Linked DNA regions of Homo sapiens: regions 2 and 3 are each linked to region 1. The links come from fine-mapping of genetic effects on gene expression. A gene starts in region 1. Each other region holds a variant in brackets. All regions are shown on one strand. Distances are from middle to middle. Region 1 holds the start of CUBN (cubilin). Region 2 overlaps TRDMT1 (tRNA aspartic acid methyltransferase 1). Region 3 overlaps RSU1 (Ras suppressor protein 1).

The links.
Region 2: its variant is fine-mapped to the expression of CUBN in blood mononuclear cells (TOPMed, PIP above 0.99).
Region 3: its variant is fine-mapped to the expression of CUBN in coronary artery (GTEx, PIP above 0.99).

Annotation. Positions count from the first base shown.
Region 1 is chr10:17,125,822-17,134,519 of GRCh38, reverse strand. It overlaps CUBN (cubilin), which reads left to right and starts at 4,709. Exons shown (of 67, transcript NM_001081.4): 1 at 4,709-4,876; 2 at 5,270-5,399; 3 at 6,596-6,691; 4 at 7,721-7,759. The coding sequence starts at 4,755.
Region 2 is chr10:17,164,213-17,172,910 of GRCh38, reverse strand. It overlaps TRDMT1 (tRNA aspartic acid methyltransferase 1), which reads left to right. Exons shown (of 11, transcript NM_004412.7): 3 at 3,994-4,070. Among named protein-coding and RNA genes, the nearest start is that of TRDMT1, 33 kb to the left of the region's middle. The variant T/G (reference allele first, on the strand shown) is at 4,088.
Region 3 is chr10:16,706,165-16,714,862 of GRCh38, reverse strand. All of the region lies in intron 7 of RSU1 (Ras suppressor protein 1), which reads left to right. Among named protein-coding and RNA genes, the nearest start is that of RSU1, 110 kb to the left of the region's middle. The variant T/C (reference allele first, on the strand shown) is at 5,277.

The sequences.
Region 1 (8,698 bases):
AGCAGGTCATGAATTATGGATGAGCAGTACACTGAACATTTGGATACCACCCTCATTCCATGTACCATGTATGGTATCAGCAACAATGCAAAATACATTTGCATGTGTCTTGCTGAAGAAGTCAAAGAGAGTAAAGGCTGATGAGTGGAAATCAACAGTACAGCAGACACCATTATAAACTTAAAGTCTACAACATGCCATTAATGTTATCAGTGTTCTGACCTAAGGGTTTTATTTATTTTTTATTATTTTATTTTATTTTTATTTTTTGAGACAGAGTCTCACTCTGTCACCCAGGCTGGAGGGCAGTGGCATGATCTCAGCTCACTGCAAGCTCCGCTTCCCGGGTTCAAGCCATTCTCCTGCCTCAGCCTCCTGAGTAGCTGGTACTACAGGCGCCCACCACCACGCCCAGCTGATTTTTTGTATTTTTAGTACAGACGGGGTTTCACCGTGTTAGCCAGGATGGTCTCCATCTCCTGACCTCGTGATCCACCCGCCTCGGCCTCCCAAAGTGCTGGGATTACAGGTTTGAGCCACCGCGCCGGGCCCTAAGGGTTTTATTTTAATGAATGCGTACAAATGTGCATAAGGGTTCCTTAGGTAAACTCTCCAACTAGGTGCCCTCCTCCAAACACTGAGCAGCCCCCAGAGCAGATCCTCCCTGTCCGAGGGCTCCATTGCTAGCACCCCATATAAAAGCTTCCTCACCCTGGTTACTCAGTTCCACTCAAGGATGATACCGTTTCTTTTGGATTGCCTGCTCTTCAAAACTCTTGGATTTAAATGGAATCTTGCTCTCCACCCACCAATGTGGAGTTGTTCTGTGCTTCCTGGAGTCACCTTGCCTTGTTCTTAGACATCAGTTACCTTTGCCTCACACCTTTAACTCCAGGTCAGCAATCGTCTTCCTCACTCAAAGTCCCCAATTCATCTCTCTGCTCTGAAATCCTCTTTTATAGGAGAAATGATCAGACACCCTTGCTTCTCCTTGTACCCAAGATTATAAAGACAGCTGTGAATTCTTTTTGTCATTTTTTCTTTTAAGGAATCTAAACCCAAGAGAGGATACAGGAGGGTGAGGATTATTATATTTCTTTACATGATATTGATAACAGCTTATATTTAATGAACACTTATTTTGTGCCAGTAACCTAATGTGCTAAACATTTTACATAACTTCAGTGCTGTTATTATCTGTCTGCTGATGAAAAAACAAGGTTCCATGGTCAGTAAGTGATGGAGTCAGACTTTGAACGCACATAAATGAGCTTCAGGCCCGTGTTCTTAACCTTCAACCATGTGGTCTTCCCTAGACTGGAGGCTTCAGAGGGAAGAATCTGCAATTTACTACATTTCGTGTTCCTATCATCTTATAGATGGCTAATATGTAAAGGGCACATGCAGAATATTAGGGGAATGCATTCTAGATTAGGGAAGAGACAGGAGTTTTACTAGTCAATGAAAGATAGAATTTCAGGTCTATAGAATGTTTACCTTGGGAGAGGAGAAGAAGAGAGGTTATCTACCATATAGATCTGAAGGTCATAGATTCTAAAACTACTTTAATTCATCTTTCCTGAAGTATTTCTGAATAGAGTAAGTAAACAGAATGAGTGCCAATCCCTTGGAAACAGCAATTGATTTTTATATTGCTTTTCACAGAGTCAACATATGCAGACAGTCTGACTTGCCTATTGATCTGAGCTAGAGTTGAGTGAATGAGCTGGATGTAAAATTCCCTAACTCATCACTAAAAGTCAGTCAGACCTTGAACGACGGTTACTTTCTTTTTTTTTTCTAACATGGGTGACAATGAGCAATTGAATGCTTAGATTGGGAGCTGAGAGATTATCTTTACTTTGTTGAGTAATAAACACATTAATTAACAAAACAGGAAAATCCTGTCAAAGAGGAAGTCCTTATTAAGATCATGCTGGAGGCCTTTTCTATTGCACTGGAAAGATTAGCTGAGTTCAGTGGTCTTTAAGAAAGTATAATCATGAAAATAGTTACGTCCAGAGCTCAGAGAGTTTGAATTATCCTTTTGATTGGAAGATTCTAGCCCAGACTATTTTATCCTATTCTAAACTTGCCAAAAATTTCATATTGTCAAACTTTCCCTCCACCCCATGCCAAGTTGTTAAGCTTTCAAATAAACAAATTTATTATGATAAATTTCATCTCTATTGATGTAAAGGCTATTGGATATCTTTTCTTAGCATTTAGTTTAATACCAAATTAATATTTTGTATCATCCTGATATATGAAGACATTTACAAATATAGAAGAGAAATAATTTTAATCAGTTTTATTGTGCTGTAATTTACATCTGCCAAAGATTATCTATTTTAACTATACAGCTTTATGAGTTTTGACAAATTTATACAGTCATGCAACCACAATCACAATCATGATACAGAACATTTTCATCACCCTTAAATATTCCCTCATGCCTCCTTGCGATCAATCTCCTCCCCAACCCCTGGCCTCTGATTTGTTGTCTATCAATCAGTGTAGTTTTGGCTTTTTTAGATTTTCATATGGAATCATGTGATATAGAATCACTTAGGAAGTAGTCTTTTGTGTCTTATTGTTGTCCTTGAAAAATATTTTTAAGCAAGCAAAATGACTTGCCACAGGTTGGCAGAAAAATATTTGCAAAATACGTATTTGAAAATTCTTGTATCTAGAATATATGAGCTCTTACAATCAATAAAAGACAAACAACAAAATTTTAAAAAATAGGCAAAATATCTAAACAGACAGTTCACCGAAGAAGATAAACAAATGGCAAATATACATAAAAAGATGCCCAACATCTTTGGTCATTAGGGAAATATAAATTAAAATTGTAATGAGATACCTATGTTGACACAAAGACCTGTTCACAAATGTTCATAACAGCTTTATTTATAATAGTCCCAAACTGGAAATAACTCAAGTGTTTATCAACTGATGAGTAGAGAAGCAAACTGTGGGATAGCCATATGATGAAATACTACTCAATAATAAAAGGGAACCAATTAATGATATACACTACAGCACAGATGAATTACAAAAGCATTATGTTGAGTGAAAGAAGCAGATACAAGAGACATATAGAAGAAATTGGGAAGGTTTAAAAAAAATTTTTAAAAGCAGTGACTATTTGAGTATCACAAGTAAAGTTTTTTTTTGTTTTGTTTTGTTTTTGAGACGGCATCTCGCTCTGTCCCCCAGGCTGGAGTGCAGTGGCATGATCTCAGCTCACTGCAAGCTCCGCCTCCCGGGTTCACGCCATTCTCCTGCCTCAGCCTCCCGAGTAGCTGGGACTACAGGCGCCCGCCACTAAGCCCGGCTAATTTTTTGTATTTGTAGTAGAGACGGGGTTTCACCACGTTAGCCAGGATGTTCTCGATCTCCTGACCTCGTGATCCGCCCGCCTCGGCCTCCCAAAGTGCTGGGATTACAGGCGTGAGCCACCGCGCCCGGCATAAGTAAAGAATTATAAGCTATGGTACATAATGATCCTCTCCTCAAAGAGCCTACATAAGTAAGACACAAAATAAGTAAAACACAAACAGGCTTGTCCTGAAAGAGCCTGCATGGGTATTAACCAATGCAATGGTAATTACCTAGAGATTTTTCTTAGAAGTGAAATTTTTACAGCTCTCCCTCAAATTCAGTTTTGTCTGTGTGCTCATGGAAAGTCTGAGTGCATCAATAGTTGATTTTACAATCGAAATGTAGAATATTTTCATCACTCTCAGTGGTTTCTGTAGTCCCAGCACAGAGTGAGTGGGGACATCAGTGCTCCATGTCCTCAAACCATATATCCAGCTGGAAGGGTGTATAGCGCAGTGTGGAAAGTGGGAATGGATTCCACAGCCGTCCATAGGTCCCACAGGGATGATAAAAAGTAAAAAGTACAAATTCTTTGTACATTCTGGATATTAACCCATTTTCATATATATATGATTTGCAAATATTTTCTTCCATTCTGGGAGTTGCTTTTTCACTCTGTTGATGTATTTTTTGATGCACAAACGTTTTTAATTTTGATGTATTCCAATTTATATCTTTTGGTTGTCTGTGTGTTTTTCTTTTTTTGCCCATGCTTTTGGTATCATACTCAAGAAATCATTGCCAAATCCAAAATCCAAGGTCATGAATTTTTGTCCTATTCTTCTGAGTTTTATGTTATAGTTTCAGATTTTTTGAACCATTGTGAGTTAATTTTATAGTTTTAGCTCTTAGATTTAGATCTTTGAACTTTTTTGAGTTAATTTTTGCATATGGTATGAGGTAAGCCTCCAACTTCTTTTGCATGTGGATATCTAGTTTTCCTAGCGCTGGGTAAAGGTGGAACTCCTCTGCAAGGGAGGTGAGGAAGGAGGGGAACAGAGAAAGGTGTAGATAATGACCAGTTTACTTTTGTTGAAACCTAGTTACTTCTTAAGCAAAGATTGTTTAAGTGGATGTTTTCAAAGCTGCTTGTTACTGTTTCAAAGGTCAAATAGATAATGATTAAGTTGCGCATCACTTAAGGTAGATTTTGACCTCTCACAAGTTGAAGAGTACTGAAGATCTAAGATCATTTACATCCCTCTGGAAGAAAAAATAACATAGCCTTCTAGGGCAAAGAAGAAAAAACTCAACAGTTACAGGATATTCCATGGTTCAAAGTACACCTGCCTGGTTTGCTGTTCTCCAAAATCCCATGCTCAGTTGGTTGGAGTGGCCTCACTCTTACCTGCCAACCTGGGAGGTTGATGATGAACATGTCTTTACCTTTTCTTTGGAGTTTGCTTACCTTATTAATATTTGCTGAAGTAAATGGCGAAGCTGGAGAACTTGAGCTGCAGAGACAAAAAAGAAGCATCAATCTCCAACAGTAAGTAAACACATGGGTCATTCCTGCTCAGGGACTAGGCTAATTCCTCACCAGTTTTCCCAAATAGCCAGATAAACAAAGGTGCAATTTTTCTTGAGGAAAATTATGTTGAGAAGCAAACAGGGAAAAACATTTAGACTGAGGTATGAAATTACTTTCCTATGCACAAATTATTATCTGTCATTTTGCAAATAATCTGTTTGCAATTGCCAGGAGGTATCTCTGAGAAATGTGCAGAGAAAAAAGTGGCAGATGAGCAGGGGCAGTTGGGTTGAGATGATCAAAAAGTGAAGATGTATTTGGCCTGTAGTTATTCAGTAAGAAACTTTGTTATTTTGGTTTAAAAATTGTACTTGCTAATTACTGATGCATTCTCTCGTTTGAATTATATAGGCCTCGAATGGCTACAGAGAGAGGAAATTTGGTGTTTCTTACGGGGTCTGCTCAAAACATTGAGTTTAGAACCGGATCCCTGGGAAAAATTAAATTAAATGATGAAGATCTCAGTGAGTGTTTACATCAGGTAATACACTGGAAATATATTGAAGTCATTTTGTATATCCATATACGGTGACTTAATTGAACAAGTCTAGATTAATCTGTACCTTGAATCTTTTTTAATTATTATTTTTTATTAATACATAATTTGATACATTCCTATAATGTGTAAAGTTCAAATCAGGGTAATTGGGATATCCATCACCTTAAATATTTACCTTTTCTTCATGCTAAGAACATATGAATTGTTCTCTTCTAGTTATTTTGAAATGTACAATAGATTAATGTTAACTATAGTCACCCTACTGGTCTATCAAACACTAGGTCTTATTTCTTCTATCTAACTATATATTGTATTCATTAATCAACCTGTCTTCAGCCTCCCTCCCCCTTCCTAGTGTACCTTGAATCTTTAGCATAGAGAACATAATTGGGCATCAGACATGTTCTTGTAAAGGACGATGGCCTGGGGTTAATAGTGGGTAGAGGGAGTATGCTAAAAGATAGAAGCTCATTGTGCCAGACAATGCACCCTAGTCCAGAGAAGGCACGGAGGGTGGAACTGAAACTCCTCCACAGGGGATGCGAGGAAGTAGGGGACCAAGGATATGTGGACATGTGACCAGTTTGCTTTTGCCACAGAACAGAATTGGCCAGTTATTCTCCTGCCTTACTGGGTGTTTTCATTTCCCAATAATCACTGCATATTTCAGTCATAATGTTAGAAGTCAGCATTATTCAGAGCTTACTGTGGGCCATCCACTGTGCTTAGCACCGTATGGATGTTATCTCATTTGACCTTCACAGCTGTCCTATGAGGTGGCCTTTATTGTCACCCTAGTTTTACAAGAGGTAAAGAAACCCTGAAGCAGTTAGGTAACTTGCCCAGGACAGCAATAAATAGCTGAGCCAGGACTTAAAACCTAAACAGTCTGCTTCCAAGCCAGGTTTCTTAATAAGCACCCTAAACTGGTATTATAGGAAAACATACAAATGGAAAATACCTTGATCTATTGTTACTGAAAAGGATAAGTGGAATTATGCTGTGGCTATTTTAGCCCAGTGTTTATTACGCATGGTGTTGTTTTGGTTTTTATAATAATAGGCAAGATCTTAGTGCTTAAAGTAGAATACTACTCAAGTTTTTAATTATGTTACTGTAAAGATAAATATGATATTTTCACTAGTGCTCTTCATTTCTTCTTCTTTTTCTAAAATTAGATCCAGAAAAACAAAGAAGATATTATAGAGTTAAAAGGGAGTGCAATTGGTCTGCCTCAAAATATATCTAGTCAAATCTATCAGCTTAATTCCAAGGTAAGTCTGACATCTACGTCATAAGAACCGATGAGTTCTCCCTAGTTCTATTGTATAAGTAACCGTTTTGTAGGGGATATACCAACTTTGTGTGCTCTTTAGAGATTTAGCATGTAACTACTCACTGTTTGGTTAAATGACACAGCTGTAATGGAGGCTGTAGAAGTGATGGACAGAAGGCAGGAAATGCTGTGCAAGCACTTGTTGCAGAAGTAGGCCTTGGGCTGGGAGCAGTGGCTCACTGCAAGTGAATGGATGATTAATATAAAAAACTGCCTGTAATCCCAGCAGTTTGGGAGGCCACAGAGGGAGGGTCGCTTGAGCCTAGGAGTTTGAGACCAGCCTGGGCCACATAGTGAGACTCCGTCTCTACCAAAAAAAAAAAAAAAAAAAAAAATAGCTGGGCATGGTGGCATGAGCCTGTACTCACAGCTACTTGGGAGGCTGAAGTGGGAGGATGGCTTGAGCCAGGGAGGTTGAGACTGCAGTGAGCTATGATCATGCCACTGTGCTCCAGCCCAGGCAACAGAGTGGGACCTTGCCAGAAAAAAAAAAAAAAAAAAAGAAAGAGAGAGAGAGAGACAGAAAGAGAGAGAGAGACAGAGAGAGAGAGAGAAAGAAAGACAGAGTGAAAGAAAGAGAGAGAGAGAAAGAAAGAAAGGAAGAAAGAAAGAAAAGAAGCCTTGCTGAAGTTCTGAGAGCAATCTTCTTATTGGGGAAGTGGATGCATCACTGACATTTATGAACATTTCCATAGTCACTGCCTACAGAGAAGCAATCGGTCAACTTATCAGTGGGTTGTACTTTAAAAAAAAACTTAAAAAAACCCCAGAAATCTATGTGATAGGAGGGAATAGGAAGGAAGAAAATCCTGAGGGGAGAGGAATGAAGAGGAAAAAGGGAATAAAAGGAGGAATGAACAAAGTGTGTCCCTAGCAGAGGGCATTAGGACAATATGTCAAGGATATAACATCACATGTGCAATGCCTTTGAACCAGCTAACTGAAGCTTTTTCTTCCCTATTGCCAGCTGGTGGATCTTGAGAGAAAATTCCAAGGCTTGCAGCAGGTAGGTCTCATGCTACTACATACCCAAATCTTTCACAGAAAACATACTAGAATCATTAATAGAGCTGCTATTCTTATTTTGAAGGTGAATGGATGATTAATATTAAAAACTTGCTTTTTCCCATAATTTAATTCTCATCCCAGCATGTGCTTCCCAGGATGCAGATGCAGAGCTGAGTCTAAGACAGATGAAATGACAAGGCTGAGGTCTCCGAGCCTGTTAGGGCTTCTGACCCTGAGTTTGCAGCCCACAGCCCACATCCTTTACCATCACCCTTTAGCTGTGTGTGCTGTGCTTGGTCAGCTAGTGATCTCCCAACTTGCTGATTCTCCCATCAGGGACTGGGGCTCGGAAAGCAAGCATCCTCTCTGACGCTAAGCTCGGAAGTCTAGGTGTATCACAAAATAGTCCGAATTTTCTTAAAATGACATTTGCTGGTAATTAAACTTGAACAGTTTCTTACAGAAAACATTGTATAACTGTACTACATGCTTGTAGACTGATCTATGTAAACTTAGGCTTCTTACCCCTTTTGTAGGAAGCTGACCTTTTAAAGACTTTCATGGAAGCTGTAACCTTCTATGCAGAGAAATGTACAGAATCTCTTCATGTTTAAAATTTTGCATAAAAATCTGGGGATTCCAGTGTAAGAATTTCTGCAAAAATATTCTTCATCTGTTTTGCTCATGCTTCAAGCATTTTCCTCTACTTTTAAGTTTGATCTGTCCCACTGTGAAGGACAGATACAAAAAAAAGGACTCATGCAGATTGAGGCAGGTCCCACCATTCTGGCAAGGATTGCTGCTGCAAACCTTTTTGTCATTTGATGATCAAGTTCGTGTATTCCTTTTCTCCACTTAGATAATACATTGACCCCTCAGCTGTCATTTTTAAGAGAGTAGTTAAGCGAAAGAAAATGAGTAAAGAATAGTGCTGTGG
Region 2 (8,698 bases), 38 kb before region 1:
TCAAATAACATTATACCACTTTATGTTTAAATTTTAACAGTATTCCTCCAATTTCCCCTACTGGTCTATTTTGATATTTTGTCTTGCACTTTACTGCTACGAATGTTATAGGCACCAACATACATTGTTACTGTTTTTTGGATTAAATAGTCAAATATCTATTAAAGAACTTTTAAAAAGCACAAAGTCTTTTATATTTATCTATATACCTACAATTTTCAGCACTTTTTATCCTTGTGTTTTAGATCAAAGTTTGCATGTGATATAATTTTTCTTCTTCCTGAAAAACCTTCTTTAGTGTCTCTTGTTGGTTATATGTGGAAAGGGACAAATTACCTTGGTGCTTTTGAGTAAAAAAGTGTTTTATTTTGTCTTCACTGTGAAATATAATTTTTACTCATTTTTTTTTCTTTTTTGGAGAGGCAGGGTCTCACTATGTTGCCCAGGCTGGTCTCAAACTCTTGGGCTCAACTGGTCCTCCCATATCAGCCTCTCAAAGTGCTGGGATTACAGGCATGAGCCACTGTGCCTGGCCCACTGAATCTTTGATTGCATTCATTTTGAAAGATATTTTTGTAAAAATCTGTTTGTTTTCTTTTAATACTTTCCAGTGTTATCTGGGTTTCTTAATTTCTGACTTAAGGTCTGTAATAATTTCTGCTTTCATTCCTCTTAATATATTGTGTCTTTCTTTGTCTACATTTAAGATTTTATCTTTATCACGTGTTTTGAAAAGTTTTATTTTGATGTGCTCTGTATGTTTTTCTTTATTTGTAGTGCTTGGACCTTGTGGTGCTTTTCTTATTTATAATTTTCATCAAATTTGGGGGGTTTGACCATTATTGCTTCAAAAATAATCTCTGTTCTCTTTCTTCACTTTCTCCAGTTACATACTGTAGAGTAAATGATAGCTACCGAAGACAGAGTGATCCGTGATAAATATCATTAATGCCTCTGAAGAGGAGAATGACTCCAGTGGAACAAAAACTCTTAATAAAAATAGATAAAAATTTTTCTAGAATGAAATTTACAATATAACATCCATGAGCCCTTCTGGAACAGATGACTGCATCACTTAATCTAGCTGAGCAAGAGATGAATCAAAGTAGAAAACCCAGGAATGAAGCTGCCGTGTTAGGAGGAAAACTATGGTTAGAAAATAGCTGAAAATGTTGTAAAGCTTTGCAGTGTAGAAATAATAATGTAATCGGAGTGGGAAGAGGCAGTGAGACACAAAAAATATGTCTTTGCAGATAAATGAAACTATCAATTTTTTAGGACATTATTCAGTGTTGTTGTCAGGGTCTCAGCAGAGCTGGGAAAGAGAAAGCTCAGCTGTCAAGAGCGTTAAAGTAGCTGATTAAGGCCACAAGCCAAAAACAAAAGAGTTAAGCCTTCACTCACTTACAGTGGTGTTACTGGCAAGAATCTAAAAGCAGAGACAATGCCACTCTCTCGGTTCCATTTACCCATGGATCAGTGTATACGTGAGGGCCCTCTCACTGTTGAGGGAATCCTTGGCCTTAAGGGAAGGGAAAGCAGGGAGGGCTAGCAGTGGAAAAGTGCTGGGGACTGAGTCAGAATGGCACACTCTTCAGGTGTCATCAGTGTCTTCAGGGTTTCCCACACCTCCCCACACAAGGAGGCCTTGGCAGAGAAGTTCTGCTCAAGGCCTCAGATAAGGACACCTCGGAATGAAGGCTCTGGGACTAAGAATGCAAATGTTCCAAGAGCCTGACTGCTGGCCTGGTTGCCTGAGATCTTGACTACACACACACACACACACACACACACACACATCTAAATCCAGTAACATACCAAATGGTGAAACTTTAAAAGTATTCTCATTAAAATAATAAAAAGACAAGGATGTCCACCATTAGCACTATGACTTGATATAGTTGTGGATCTGTTAGCTAATGTACTTACACAGAGAAATATCATATAAATAGAAATATTTAAAAATGTGATTGAGTATGCCGGAAAATACCAACAAGTTAAGCAAAAATAATATATGAGGAACAATTAGTGCTTTAATAAGGACGCTGGCTACAAAAATATGATAACCTACAGCATACAATATACAATATGTCTACTAGAAGACATAATAGGAGAAAGTTCCTATTTTTAGTAACAACACAAGAATCTGTATAACAAGAAATCTATATAACTCACATGGGAGTTAAAGAGATTTGAAAAATGATGAAAGCGTACTGTGGTCTTGGATAGGATGGCTGAATATTGTAAAAATATTGGCTCTGTTTCACTATAACTTCAATAAAATAGTCAAAAGTTGTTGTTTTCTAATCTACCAAGTTCTTCCTAAAGTTCAAATGAAAATTCAGTTTAAGAATAGCCAGAAAACTTTCTGAGAAAATAGGCAATAAGGCAGGCAGAGGGACAAATACACCTGCCAGTCAATACAGGATGAACAGTGTTAGCCCACTGACTTGATCTAATATTATCTGAAAGCAAAAGTATTTTCCTTAACTTGTATAGTCATATAAGGTAAAAAATCAATTTCCTTTGGCTTTAAAATATTTAGTCATTAAAAATAACCTGTGTATTTCCATGACTACTTTATTTAATCCAAATACACTTTCATTGACCTAGAATACCAGGTTAAATAAGTTGTGAAGGGTTCAATTTAGTGATGAATTTTTGCCTAACTGCCTTATCAGTTGGCCTACACTATTAAAAAAATCACTATTTTCAAGAATCTGTTAAAGCTGTAATTTTTTTAGTGGCTAGCTGTATTAGAGACATTGACTCTGTTTACTTCCTTTCGATTCTAGACATAGGATGCCCCTGGAATAATTGCTATGAGAGATTGTTGTTTTTTACTTTAGTTGTAGGAATTTAGCTGTTATCATTCCACGTCCAGTTGCTTATCATAATGGCCCTGTATGTACAGGCTGTTGAACTTGAATGTGATGTGCTAATACCCTGCCCCGTGTGTTCTGGCAGACTGCTCAGTGTAGGATTTTCAGATTGCTTTCCTTAACACTGGGGAGTCGAGAAGTGCTTTAGGAAATTTTCAATATCTGATTTTGATTTCATTTTCACAGATGTATCTTTAATTATTTAAAATCCTATGATCAAAAACTGATAGACAAGCACATTCAAACTGTTAATACAATGGAGACAACTGACATGTTCCCACGTTAACTCACTCTTTACAGAATTCAGAGTAAAGCTTTTCCTGCTTTATTCATGTGCTTGAACTTCTTAGAAGTGGGCTATAATTAGGAAGGTTTTGATTCTGGGCTCATTTCTTTAAGTTTCTAGCTAAAGATGTGCACTGAGAGTGCTTAATGTGAGTTGGCAAACCCCTGACGTGTGCTTCCCTGTGTTTGTCTTCTGAGATATAGAAAAGGAGCAACACAGCACAGTTTTCAGCTACTTAGCCCATTAGGAATTCTTTTGATGCATCTTGTCAACAGTCATTTGAAGTTCATTGCACACAACTGCAAAACAAAATAATTGTGGATATCTGAGAATGAGGCCCTTTTCCATTTGATAATATATTAACAGATGTATATGAAAGGGATGGTGACTGGTCTGCATATCACATTTGCTAAATAAAGAACATTATTGACAGGTAGGTATTTAAAAATTTCCTAGACCCCATCTCCATGAACGTTATCAATTATAAAATAAGGTTCTCCACGTTTTACTCTAGAAAACAGCAGTGTTACACTTGAGGTGTGATACAGGCCAGATGTGCTTAGGATCCAGGAAACAACTGTTCCAGCTCTGGGCTGGTGCTGGGACCTTGGGGGAAGTCACTTAATTTCTTGTAGCTTCAGTTTACTGCCCCACTTCCTTCACAGTATTGCTTTGAGAAGTTAGTTAACCAAAGTTGATTTGACAAGCATTGTATTATAAACTGTTTCAGTTTCTGATATATTTAATTATAGTTAGTATTTTCCCTCTTCCCCATTCTATCCATGTTTTTATGTTCTTTTTTCCCCCTAAATGTTCATTCCTCAGGGCATTACACTCGAAGAGTTTGACAGATTATCTTTTGATATGATTTTAATGAGCCCTCCCTGCCAGCCATTCACAAGGTATGTGTCATAAATAT[T/G]TCAGTGTTGTATTGGTCCATTTTCATGCTGCTGATAAAGACATACCTGAGACTGGGCAATTTACAAAAGAAAGAGGTTTACTAGACTTACAGTTCCATGTGGCTAGGGAAACCTCACAATCATGGCGGAAGGCAAGGAGGAACAAGTCACGGGCAGCAGGTAAAGAGAGAGATGTTGTGCAGGGAAACTGCCCTTTATAGAACCATCTGATCTCATGAGACTTATTCACTGTCACAAGAACAGCACAGCAGAGACCTGCCCCCATGATTCCGTTACCTCCCACCGGGTCCGTCCCACAACACGTGGAAATTCAAGATGAGATTTGGATGGGGACACAGCCAAACCATATCAAGTGTAGAGAAAGTGCTTTTGAAGGACTTACTAAATCAGATCATACTGTAGTGTCAAACATGGACACTCTGAAGTTTATTAGCTGCATTTCATAGTTCGGAAATTTTTTCATAAATCCTTCTATCTACTTATGTATGTATTTATTTATTTTTAAATAATAATAATTATTGGGACAGGGTCTTGCTCTGTCACCCAGGCTGCAGTGCAGTGGCATGATCACAGCTCCCTGCAGCCTCAATCTCCCAGGTTCAAGCAATCCTCCTGCCTCAGCCTCCTGAGTAGCTGGGACTAAAGGTATGTACTTCCATGCCCAGCTAATTTTTAAATTTTTGGTAGAGATGGCGTCTCACTATGTTGCCACGGCTGGCCTAAAAGCCCTGGGCTCAAGCTATCCTCCCACCTCGACCTCCCAAAGTGCTGGGATTATACACGGAGCCACCATGCCCAGCCTCCATTCATATTTATAATTAAGCATTAATCACAAAGGAAATAGCAGTTGCTACCAGATGAGCAAATTAATTTGGTCAAAAGTAGATATGCAAGACTGTAGGATACCTCTTTTATACTTACCTAAGACACAATGTTTATTTCCAGCCCAAAGTACCTTAATTCATTTAAACTAATGAGCATTCAAGAATATCTTTCTAATACTGATTAAGCAAAGTGAATTTCCACAATAAATATTCAAGTCCTAAATTGCTTAATTGTACAATTTAAAAGCTAGTTAAGCATGCACTTGTGAACTTTACATTTCTTAAAATTCATATGTACATTGAATAATTCTGACTTTTCATAGCAACGTTATAAACTCTTCATTTAAAAAATTATATATATGTGTGTATATATATATTTGGCTATATGTTTCAGGAAATTATATCTTCGACCAAATCTTGACTAATTGATTTTCATTTAGATATTTTTAATAAGAGTATTTTGGATTATTTTAAATGAAAATAGCAGTAGTAATCCTCTAAGTGTCTGTGTCTTATGCAGAGGATGTCATTTAATTTAACAAGCTTATGGGGTAGCCATTGCTGTTACAATGATTTTACAGATGAGAAACTGGGGCATAGAAAGGTTAACTTTCTCAAGGATATACAATTAAAGAATGTCAGAGCCAAGATTTGTTAATCATTTTATATATTCCATGATTTTAAGTAGAATATCATATGTAATAACCAGTCTAATTCAGTGAATGAATATTCTAATGCCAAATTTCCATCTACATTTGGATTTATTTAAACAATTCTCTAGGAAATGAATTTCCCAAGGATTTGTGGTTCACCTACAAGCCAGGCATTATTTTTGATGCTGTAGTTCCTGTCCTTTGGGAGCTCATAGTCTAATGGGAATGGCTGACAAATAATTATCTTATAATGTTATCTTAAATTATCTTATAAGCTATATAATAAAAGAATGCTGAAAGTGTCACAGGAGTACAGAGGAGAAAAGGGCTTGCTGCATACCAAGAGAAGGGAATTCTTTCAGAGGTGATGTCTGAACTGTGTCTGGAGGTAGATTAGGAGTATATCAGAGCAGGCAGAGGCCATTCCATCTCAGGGTGGCTCTAGGCACGTGCAAGAGTGTGGCCTGTGGAGTACAGTGAGCAGGATATACACAGCGGAATGCAGCTCCAGCTCTGTGAAGCCTCAGGTAATACTGCAGAGGGCCCCGTAGCTTTCCTACTCCCACCTCCCCCTTGTCTTAGCACAGCTCCAGCTGCTGATGGCAGGAGTAACTGATTCTGTAGTCCTCATGTGAAAGTCTGACAGGAAAGGACAAATAAGAACTGAAGATTTCTGAGAAGTCTGTTCACATCCAGTCTAATCCCACAGCTGAACCTCAGATCCACTGATGGTTTTGGTCCTGCCATCAGGTATGAGGAAACTGACCAATGATGCCAGCTAACTTATTTAAGACTCTGAAGATAAATAGCATGCTTTTTTTTTATTATTATACTTTAAGTTTTAGGGTACATGTGCACAACGTGCATGTTTGTTACATATGTATACGTGTGCCATGTTGGTGTGCTGCACCCATTAACTCATCATTTACATTAGGTATATCTCCTAATGCTATCCCTCCTCCCTCCCCCCACCCCACAACAGGCCCCGGTGTGTGATGTTCCCCGTCCTGTGTCCATGTGTTCTGATTGTTCAATTCCCACCTATGAGTGAGAACTTGCGGTGTTTGGTTTTTTGTCCTTGTGATAGTTTGCTGAGAATGATGGTTTCCAGCTTCATCCATGTCCCTACAAAGGACATGAACTCATCCTTTTTATGGCTGCATAGTATTCCATGGTGTATATGTGCCACATTTTCTTAATCTAGTCTATCATTGTTGGACACTTGGGTTGGTTCCAAGTCTTTGCTATTGTGAATAGTGCCACAATAAACATACGTGTGCATGTGTCTTTATAGCAGCACGATTTATAATCCTTTGGGTATATACCCAGTAATGGGATGGCAGGGTCAAATGGTATTTCTAGTTCTAGATCCCTGAGGAATCCCCACACTGACTTCCACAATGGTTGAACTAGTTTACAGTCCCACCAACAGTGTAAAAGTGTTCCTATTTCTCCACATCCTCTCCAGCACCTGTTGTTTCCTGAGTTTTTAATGATTGCCATTCTAACTGGTGTGAGATGGTATCTCATTGTAGTTTTGATTTGCATTTCTCTGATGGCCAGTGATGATGAGCATTTTTTCATGTGTCTTTTGGCTGCATAAATGTCTTCTTTTGAGAAGTGTCTGTTCATATCCTTTGCTCACTTTTTGATGGGGTTTTTTGTTTTTTTCTTGTAAATTTGTTTTGAGTTCATTGTAGATTCTGGATATTAGCCCTTTGTCAGATGAGTAGATTGCAAAAATTTTCTCCCATTCTGTAGGTTGCCTGTTCATTCTGATGGTAGTTTCTTTTGCTGTGCAGAAGCTCTTTAGTTTAATTAGATCCCATTTGTCAATTTTGGCTTTTGTTGCCATTGCTTTTGGTGTTTTAGACATAAAGTCCTTGCCCATGCCTATGTCCTGAATGGTATTGCCTAGGTTTTCTTCTAGGGTTTTATGGTTTTAGGTCTAACATTTAAGTCTTTAATCCATCTTGAATTAATTTTAGTATAAGGTGTAAGGAAGGGATCCAGTTTCAGCTTTCTACATATGGCTAGCCAGTTTTGCCAGCACCATTTATTAAATAGGGAATCCTTTCCCCATTTCTTGTTTTTGTCAGGTTTGTCAAAGATCAGATAGTTGTAGATAAGTGGCATTATTTCTGAGGGCTCTGTTCTGTTCCATTGATCTATATCTCTGTTTTGGTACCAGTACCATGCTGTTTTGGTTACTGTAGCCTTGTAGTATAGTTTCAAGTCAGGTAGCGTGATGCCTCCAGCTTCGTTCTTTTGGCTTAGGATTGACTTGGCAATGTGGGCTCTTTTTTGGTTCCATATGAACTTTAAATTGGTTTTTTCCAATTCTGTGAAGAAAATCATTGGTAGCTTGATGGGGATGGCATTGAATCTATAAATTACCTTGGGCAATGTGGCCATTTTCACAATATTGATTCTTCCTATCCCTGAGCATGGAATGTTCTTCCATTTGTTTGTATCCTCTTTTATGTCATTGAGCAGTGATTGGTAGATCTTCTTGAAGAGGTCCTTCACATCCCTTGTAAGTTGGATTCCTAGGTATTTTATTCTCTTTGAAGCAATTGTGAATGGGAGTTCACTCATGATTTGGCTCTCTGTTTGTCTTTTATTGGTGTATAAGAATGCTTGTGATTTTTGCACATTGATTTTGTATCCTGAGACTTTGCTGAAGTTGCTTGTCAGCTTAAGGAGATTTTGGGCCGAGATGATGGGTTTTTCTAGATATACAATCATGTCATCTGCAAACAGGGACAATTTGACTTCCTCTTTTCCTAACTGAATGCCCTTTATTTCTTTCTCCTGCCTGATTGCCCTGGCCAGAACTTCCAACACTATGTTGAATAGAAGTGATGAGAGAGGGCATCCCTGTCTTGTGCCAGTTTTCAAAGGGAATGCTTCCAGTTTTTGCCCATTCGGTATGATATTGGCTGTGGGTTTGTCATAGATAGCTCTTATTATTTTGAGATATGTCCCATCAATACCTAATTTATTGAGAGTTTTTAGCATGAAGGGTTGTTGAGTTTTGTCAAAGGTCTTTTCTGCATTTATTGAGATAATCATGTGGTTTTTGTCGTTGGTTCTGTTTATATGCTGGATTACATTTATTGATTTGCTTGTG
Region 3 (8,698 bases), 420 kb after region 1:
CTCAGTGTCCACATTGAGGACCCGCAACCTAAGCAGCTTCAACTCTGTCCCATCTTGAACCTTTCCCACTGCTAGAGTGCATCCTGCCCTGCGCACCAGTAGCAATTGACTCTTTTCATCCTGGAGGCCTAGCTGTCCTTATACCACATTCACACAGGTACCTGCAGCACTATGACCATAGCTACCCAAAGCATAGGTCACATGGAATGACTGAGACCCCAGTGTTCAAACCCAAGTGACACACCACATCCCCCCACCCCCCAGGGAACAGGCAGATCTGTACGGTGCTGAAGTCACTGAACAGTCAGCCAATTACCTCTCCTGCACGTACCTGCACCATAGCCACCTGTCCCACCAAGCGCGGTGCATCCATAGCTGGTCCAACTGTTGGTCCTGTGGCAGCCTCGTTCCCGCATACAGACACCCAAAGAGCAGCTGAATGCTGCTATTCTATGTCTAGCCTGACAGCTGGTCCAGTAGCAGCCCTCCCTCCCAAATAACTGCAAGGCTGCCCAACCCCATTTCACACTGGCATCCAGCCCAAGAGCTGGGCCAGTGGTGGACCTGCTCCTCTAGACAGACTCCTACAGGGCCACCTGACACAGCTGCACCTATGTGCAGCTGGCACAGCATCAGACCAGTAGACTCTTCATCCATCCTCTTGAAGAGACAGCCACGTAGCTGCTCAGCTAGCCACACCCATATGCACCTAAGCTCAGCCCAACAGCCAGACTAGTGGTGGCCCCACCTCCCTGAAAAGCCTGTTGGAGAGCCTTTTCGCCCTCCACACCCATACATATTCAGCCCAACAGCCAGCCCAACACCCCTACTCCCAGCAAAACCACACACTACGACCACCACAAATACCTACAGCATAGGCCATTGAGGCAATTGCAGACATTGCTGATGAAGATTGCAGCTGAAAAAACTACATGTAGACCATGCTACTGAGTCCACCCAGAACTAAAGCTAACTCACCACACTCAAATGACACCTTGGGACCTATCTACAGGAAGAATTATCTCCTAATGAAAGTTACTTCATAAACCTGGAAAGGGTCACTATTCCACTAGATGTTCAGATATCAGCATAGGGACACAAGCAATGTGAAAAAGCAAGGAAATGTGATACCTGCAAAGGAATACAATAAGTCTTTAGTAAAAGACCCCAAAGAAAAGGACATTTATGAAATGCCTGAAAATAAGATAATCTTAAGGAAACTCATGGAGATACAAGAGAATACAGCAAATAATTCAGTGAGATCAGGAAAACAATTCATCATCCGAATGAGAAATGCAACAAAGATAAGTGTCATAAAGAACCAAACAGAAATCTTGGAGCTGAGGAATTATGAATGAAATAAAAAGTGCAAGTGAAAGCTTCAACAACAGACTAGATCAGGCAGAGTAATTTCTGAACTTGAAGACAGGCCTCTTGAATTATCCCAGTCAGAGGGAAAAAAAAATAAGAATTTTAATTGAAGAAAGCCTGTGGGACTCATGCGATACCATTAAATGAACAAATGTGTGCATTATAGGAACTTCGTAGGGAGAAGAGTTGGAGAAAGACACAGAAAACCTATGTAATGAAATAATAGATGAAAACTTCCCTAGTCTTGGCAGAAATACGGACATAGGAATTCAGCAAGTTCAGAGGTCCCCAGTTAGATTCAGTCCTCTCTGAGGCACATTATAATCATACTCTCAAAAGTTAAAGACAGAATTTTAAAAGCCACAAGAAAACAGTGTCACATCACACACAAGGGAATGTCCATTAGACTACTAGTAGATTTCTCAGCAGAAACCTTGCAGGTTAGAAGAGAATGGGATGATATATTCAAAGTGCTGAAAGAAGGGGGGCTTGTGGGGAGGAGGAACTGTCAGCCAAGAATATTATATCCAACAAAGTTATCCTTCAGAAATGAAGGAGAAATAAGACCTTTTCAGACAAGCAAAGGCTGAGAGAATTTGTGACCAGTAGGTTGGCCTTATAAGGAATGCTTAAGGGAGTGCTACCACTGGAAAAGAAAGGACAATAATTATCATGAAAACATGTGAAGGTGTAAAACTCACTAGTAGAGGTAAATTCATAAAATACTCTAGTGATTTAATGGTCCTATGTAAATCTCTCAATCCTCTAGTATGAAGACTTAGAAGTCAAAAAGGTCAAAAACAACAACAACCACACTTAGTGGCTACAAATATATAATAAATAAGTAGATTAAGGCAACAAAAATATTAATTGTGTATGGGGTTAAGTCTAGAATATTTTCATGCAACCAGATTTAAATTGCTATCAGGTTGATGTAGTCTATTGTAACTACAAGACTCTTATGTTAGCCCCATGGTAACCACAAAGAAAGAAATTACGACAGAATAATAAACAGTAAAGAGAAAGAAAACAAAACTTCGCAGCACAGAAAACCACCAAACCGCGAAGGAAAATAACATGAGTAAAAGAAAGGGGAAAAGGATCTACAAAACAAGCAGAAAACAACAATATGGCAGGAATAAATTTTTATTGATATGACCTTGAATATAAATGGATTAAAGTCTCAAATTTAAAAACACAGAGTGGTCGAACAGGTTTTAAAAATAAGACCCAACTATCTGCTGGCTACAAGAGGCTCACATCATCATTAAAGACAAACATAAACTGAAAGTGAAGGAATGGAAAAACATATTCCATACAAACAGAAACCAAAAGTGAGCAGGAGTAGCTATAATTGTATCAGATAAGACAGATTTTAAGTCAAAAACTGGAAAAAGAAAAAAGGTCATTATGTCATGATTAAAGGATAAATTCAATAAGAGAATATTGTAACAAATACATATGCACTCAACCCTGAAACATACAGATGTACAAAACAAACATGATTGCACATAAAGGTACAGATCAACTGCAATACAATTATAAAAGGGAAGTTTGGCAAAGAAATATCAGACTAAAACTACATCAAAGACCTAATGCACCTAGCAGATATTTACAGAACATTTTAACAGCTGCAGAATACAAATTCTTCTCAATTACACATGAAACATTCTCCAGGATAGAGCACATGCTAGGCCACAAAACAAATCTTAACAGATTTGAGATAGAGATCCTATCAAGTATCTTTTCTAACCACAGTGGTATGAAACTAGAAAACAACAACATGAGCAACTTTGGATACTTTGAAATACGTGGAAATTAAACAACATGGCCCTCAACAACCAGTGGGTCAATTAAATTAACAGAGAAATGAAAAATTGCTTTGAGACAAACAAGAATGCAAACACATCTTACCAAAACCTGTGAGACACAGCGAGAGAGCAGTTCTAACAGGGAATTTTATAGCAATACACAGCTACATTAGAAAAGAAGAGAGATTTTTAATGAACAACCTAATGACGTACCACAAGGAACTAGAAAAACAAGAACAAACTGAACCCAAAATTGATAGAAGGAAAGGTAGAATAAGGCTCAGAGAAGAAATAAAGACAAATTAACATTCAAAAGATCAAGAAAACGAAGAGTTGGTTTTTTTGAAAAGATAAGCAAAATCAACAAACTTTAAGCTAGACTAAAAAAAACAAGACTCAAGTAAAATCAGAGATGGAAAAGGAGATGTTACAACTGATACTACAGAAATACAGAAAATTATAGAGAATATTATGAGCTGCTATATGCCAACAAATTTGATAATATGGAAGAAATAGATAAGTTCTTGGACATATACAAACTACTGAGATTCAATTATAAAGAAATTAAAGATCTGAACAGACTAATAACTAGTGAGACAATTAGTTATAAAAAGTCTTTCCTGGATAGAGAAAATGTGGCACATATACACCATGTGGAATACTGTGCAGCCATAAAAAAGAAAGACTTTATGTCCTTTGCAGGAACATGGATGAAGCTGGAAACCATCATTTTCAGCAAACTAACACAGGAACAGAAAATCAAACATTGCATGTTCTCACTGATAAGTGGGAGTTGAACAATGAGAACACATGGACACACGGAGGGGAGCATTACACACTGGGACCTGTCGGCGGGTAGGGGGTAAGAGGAGGGATAGCATTGGAGAAATTCCTAATGTAGATGATGGGTTGATGGGTTCAGCAAACCACCATGACACATGTATACCTATGTAACAAACCTGCACTTTCTGCACATATATCCCAGAACTTAAAGTATAATAAAAAATAAAAAAATTTAAAAAAAATGTTTCATCAAAGAAAAGCTTAGGACCTGATGGCTTCACTACTGAATTCTACAAAACATTTGAAGAAGAACTAATAACAGTTCTCCTCAAACTATTCCAGAAAATTGATAAGTGGGGAGTATTTGTAAAATTTTATGAGGCCAGCATTACCCTGATCCTGAAACCAGACAACGATACAACAACAACAGCAAAACTACAGGTAAGTATCTGTAATGTGAACATAGATGCAGAAATTCTTAATAAGATATTAACAAACTGAATCCAGCAGCACATTAAAAAGATCATTCACTGTGATCAAGTATTACTCATACCAGTGTTGCAAGGGTAGTTTAACGTATGCAAGTCAATAAGTGTAATACATCACATTAACAAAAAGAGACAAAAACAATATGATCATTTCAGTAGATGCAGAAAAAGCATTTGACATCCTTCAACATTCTTTCATAAAAACTCAACAAATTAGTTATGGAAGGTATGTACCTTAACACAGTAAATGTCATGTATGAAAAACCCACAGCTGACATCATACTGAATGAGGAAAAGCTTTCTTTTAATATATGGAACAAGACAAGGATGCCAACTTCTGCTACTTCTGTTCAACATAGTACTGGAAGTCCTAGCCTAAGCCATTAGGGAAGAGAAAGATATAAAAGGCATCCAAATTGGAAAAGAGGAAGTCAGATTGTCCTGTTTGCAGACATGATCTTACATATAGAAAACCGAATGGGAGAAAATTTTGGCAACCTTCTCATCTGACAAAGGGCTAATATCCAGAATCTACAATGAACTCAAACAAATTTACAAGAAAAAAACAACCCCATCAAAAAGTGGGCAAAGGATATGAACAGACACTTCTCAAAAGAAGACATTTATGCAGCCAAAAGACACATGAAAAAATGCTCATCATCACTGGCCATCAGAGAAATGCAAATCAAAACCACAATGAGATACCATCTCACACCAGTTAGAATGGCAATCGTTAAAAAGTCAGGAAACAACAGGTGCTGGAGAGGATGTGGAAAAATAGGAACACTTTTATACTGTTGGTGGGACTGTAAACTAGTTCAAC[T/C]ATTGTGGAAGTCAGTGTGGGGATTCCTCAGGGATCTAGAACTAGAAATACCATTTGACCCAGCCATCCCATTGCTGGGTATATACCCAAAGGACTATAAATCATGCTGCTATAAAGACACATGCACACGTATGTTTATTGCGGCACTATTCACAATAGCAAAGACTTGGAACCAACCGAAATGTCCAACAATGATAGACTGGATTAAGAAAATGTGGCACATATACACCATGGAATAGTATGCAGCCATAAAAAATGATGAGTTCATGTCCTTTGTAGGTACATGGATGAAATTGGAAATCATCATTCTCAGTAAACTATCGCAAGGACAAAAAACCAAACACCTCATGTTCTCACTCATAGATGGGAATTGAACAATGAGAACACATGGACACGGGAAGGGGAACATCACACTCTGGGGCCTGTTGTGGGGTGGGGGAAGGGGGGAGGGATAGCATTAGGAGATACATCTAATGCTAAATGACGAGTTAATGGGTGTAACACACCAGCATGGCACATGTATACATATGTAACCTGCACATTGTGCACATGTACCCTAAAACTTAAAGTATAATTAAAAAAAAAAAACCAAAGGACTCTACTAAAGAACTGGTAGAACTAATAAATGAATTCAGTAGTTATGGGATACAAAATCAGCATACAAGAATCAGTAGTCTTTCTATATATTAACCATTATTAATATTGGTTCATTAACTATCTGAAAAAGAAATCAAGAAAACAGCTCCATTTACGATAGCTTAAAAAAAAAAAGATAATAGAAACAAAACCAAATTGAAAGCTCTCTATATTGAAACTCTAAAACTTTAACAAAAGAAATTGAAGAGGACACAAATAAATGGCAAGCTACTTTGTCTTCATGGTTTGGAAGAATTAATATAGTTAAGATGGCCATATTACCTAAAATAATCTACAGATTTGATGCAATTCCTATCAAAATACTAATGACATTCTTTACACAGATAGAAAAAAAAATCCTAAAATTCATATGGAACCACAAAAGGACCCAAATAGCCAAAGCAACCCTGAGCAAAAAGAAAAACCTGCAGGTATCACACCAACCAAGTTCAAAATGTACAGTTGACTCCTAAAGAACTTAGATTTAAACTGTGCAGGCTCACTTTTATGTAGATTTTCTTCTGCTTCTGCCACCCCTGAAACAGCAAGACAAATCCCTCAACAGGAAGCCTACTCACCAGGAAGACAATGAGGATGAAGACCTTTATAATACTCCACATCCACTTAATAAATAATAAATATATTTACTCTTCCTTATGTTTTTCTTAATGACATTTTCTCTAGCTTTATTGTAAGAATATAGTATATAATGTATGTAACAGACAAAATATGTTAATTGACTATGTTATCCGTAAGGTTTCTGATCAATAGTAGGCTATTAATAGTTTTTTGGGGGAAGTCAAAAGTTGTTCAAGGGTCACTGCTACTACAAAGTTATGGGAACCTAAACATGTTACTGGCTTTAAAAACAGACGCATAAACCAGTGGAACAGAATAGAGAGCCGACAAATAAATTTACATACCTATAGCCAACTAATTTTTCATAATGGTGGCAAGAACACACATTAAGGAAAAGACAAATCTCTTTAGTAAATGGTGCTGGGAAAATTGGATATCAACATGCAAAAGAATGAGTCTAGACCTCTACCTCTTACCAAAAAAAAGAAAAATCAAAACAGATTAAAATGTAAATGTAAAACCCAAAACTATGCAACTACTGGAAGAAAACAGAGAGGAAACTTTTCACAGCATTGACCTGGAGAAGGGTTTTTTAAACAAGACTTCAAAAGCAGCAGGCAACAAAAGCAAAACTAGACAAACAAGATTACATCAAATTATAAAGCTTTTGCACAGCAAAGGAAGCTATTGACGGAGTGAAGAGGCACCTAAAGAATGAGAGTAAATATTTACAAAGTATGTATCTGGCAAGAGGTTAATATTCAGAACATAAAAGGATCATAACAGCAAAAAAAAAAAAAACCTGATTAAGAAAATGGGCAAACTACCTTAATAGACATGTGTCCAAAGCAGACATACAGATGGCCAACATGTATATGAAAAAATGCTCAACATCAGTAATCATCAAGAAAGTGCAAATCAGAACCACGATAAAATACCACCTCACTCCAGTTAGCATGGCTATTGTTAAAAAGAGAAAATAAGGGTTGGCAAGGATGTGGAGAAAGGGAAACACATTGTTGGTGGGATTGTAAATTAACCATTATGGAAAAGAGTATGGAGATCCTTCAAAAAATTAAAAATAGGACTACCATACAATCCAGCCATTCCATTACTAGGTATATATCCAAAAGAAATTACTATGTTGAAGAGAAAACTTCAACTCCCATGTTTATTGCAGCACTGTTTACAATAACTAAGATACGTAATCAACCTAAGTGCCCATTAATGCAAGAATGAATACAGAAAATGTATATATACATAATGGAATATTATTCAGCCATGAAAGTATGAAATCTTCTCATTTGCCACAATTGGATGAACCTGAAAGAAGTCATGTTTTGTGAAATAATCCAGACACAGAAAGACACATAACACATGATCCCACTCATATGAGATCTTTTTTTCTTAACAACAACAAAAACAGAGTTGGTATCCTTGAAACAGGAAGTAGAATAGTGGTTACCAGAGACTGGGAGGGGCGGGAAGAGATGGAAGGGTGCAGAGATGTTGGCCAGTGGGTACATAGTTACATTTAGACAGTAGGAATAAATTTTGATGTTCTGTTACACAGTAGACTGACTGTAATTAACAGTGAAATATTGTATATTAGGAAACAGCTAGAAGAGAGGCTTTCAAATGTTCCCACCACAAAGAAATACGTGCATGAGGTGATGAATACTAGCCACCCAGATTGGATAATTATATAGCATAGATAGGTATCAAAACATCAAATTGTACCCCCATAAGTATGTATAATTCCACTGTGTCAATTAAAATTTTTTCTAAAATTTTCTAAAATTATTTTTTCTAAAAAGACCACCCACGGAATGAGAGAAAATATTTGTAAATTGTATATCTGATAAAGGATTAAAATTTAGAGTATATAGAGAACTAAAACTCAACAGCAGCAACAATAAAAAACACAACCCAGTTGAAAAATGGCAAGGGACTTGAATAACTTTTTCCCAAGGAAGGTACATAAATGGCCAATAAGCACATGAAAAAATGTTCAACATCTCTAGTCATTACGGAAGTGCAAGTGAAAACTACAATGCTATATAATTTCATATCCATTAGGGTGGTTACTATAAAAAATTTACAAGTATTAAAAAGATGAGGTTGGGAACCCTTGAGCACTGTTGGTGGAAATGGAAAATTGTATGACAGTTTCTCGAAAAATTAAAACTACCATACGACCCAGCAGT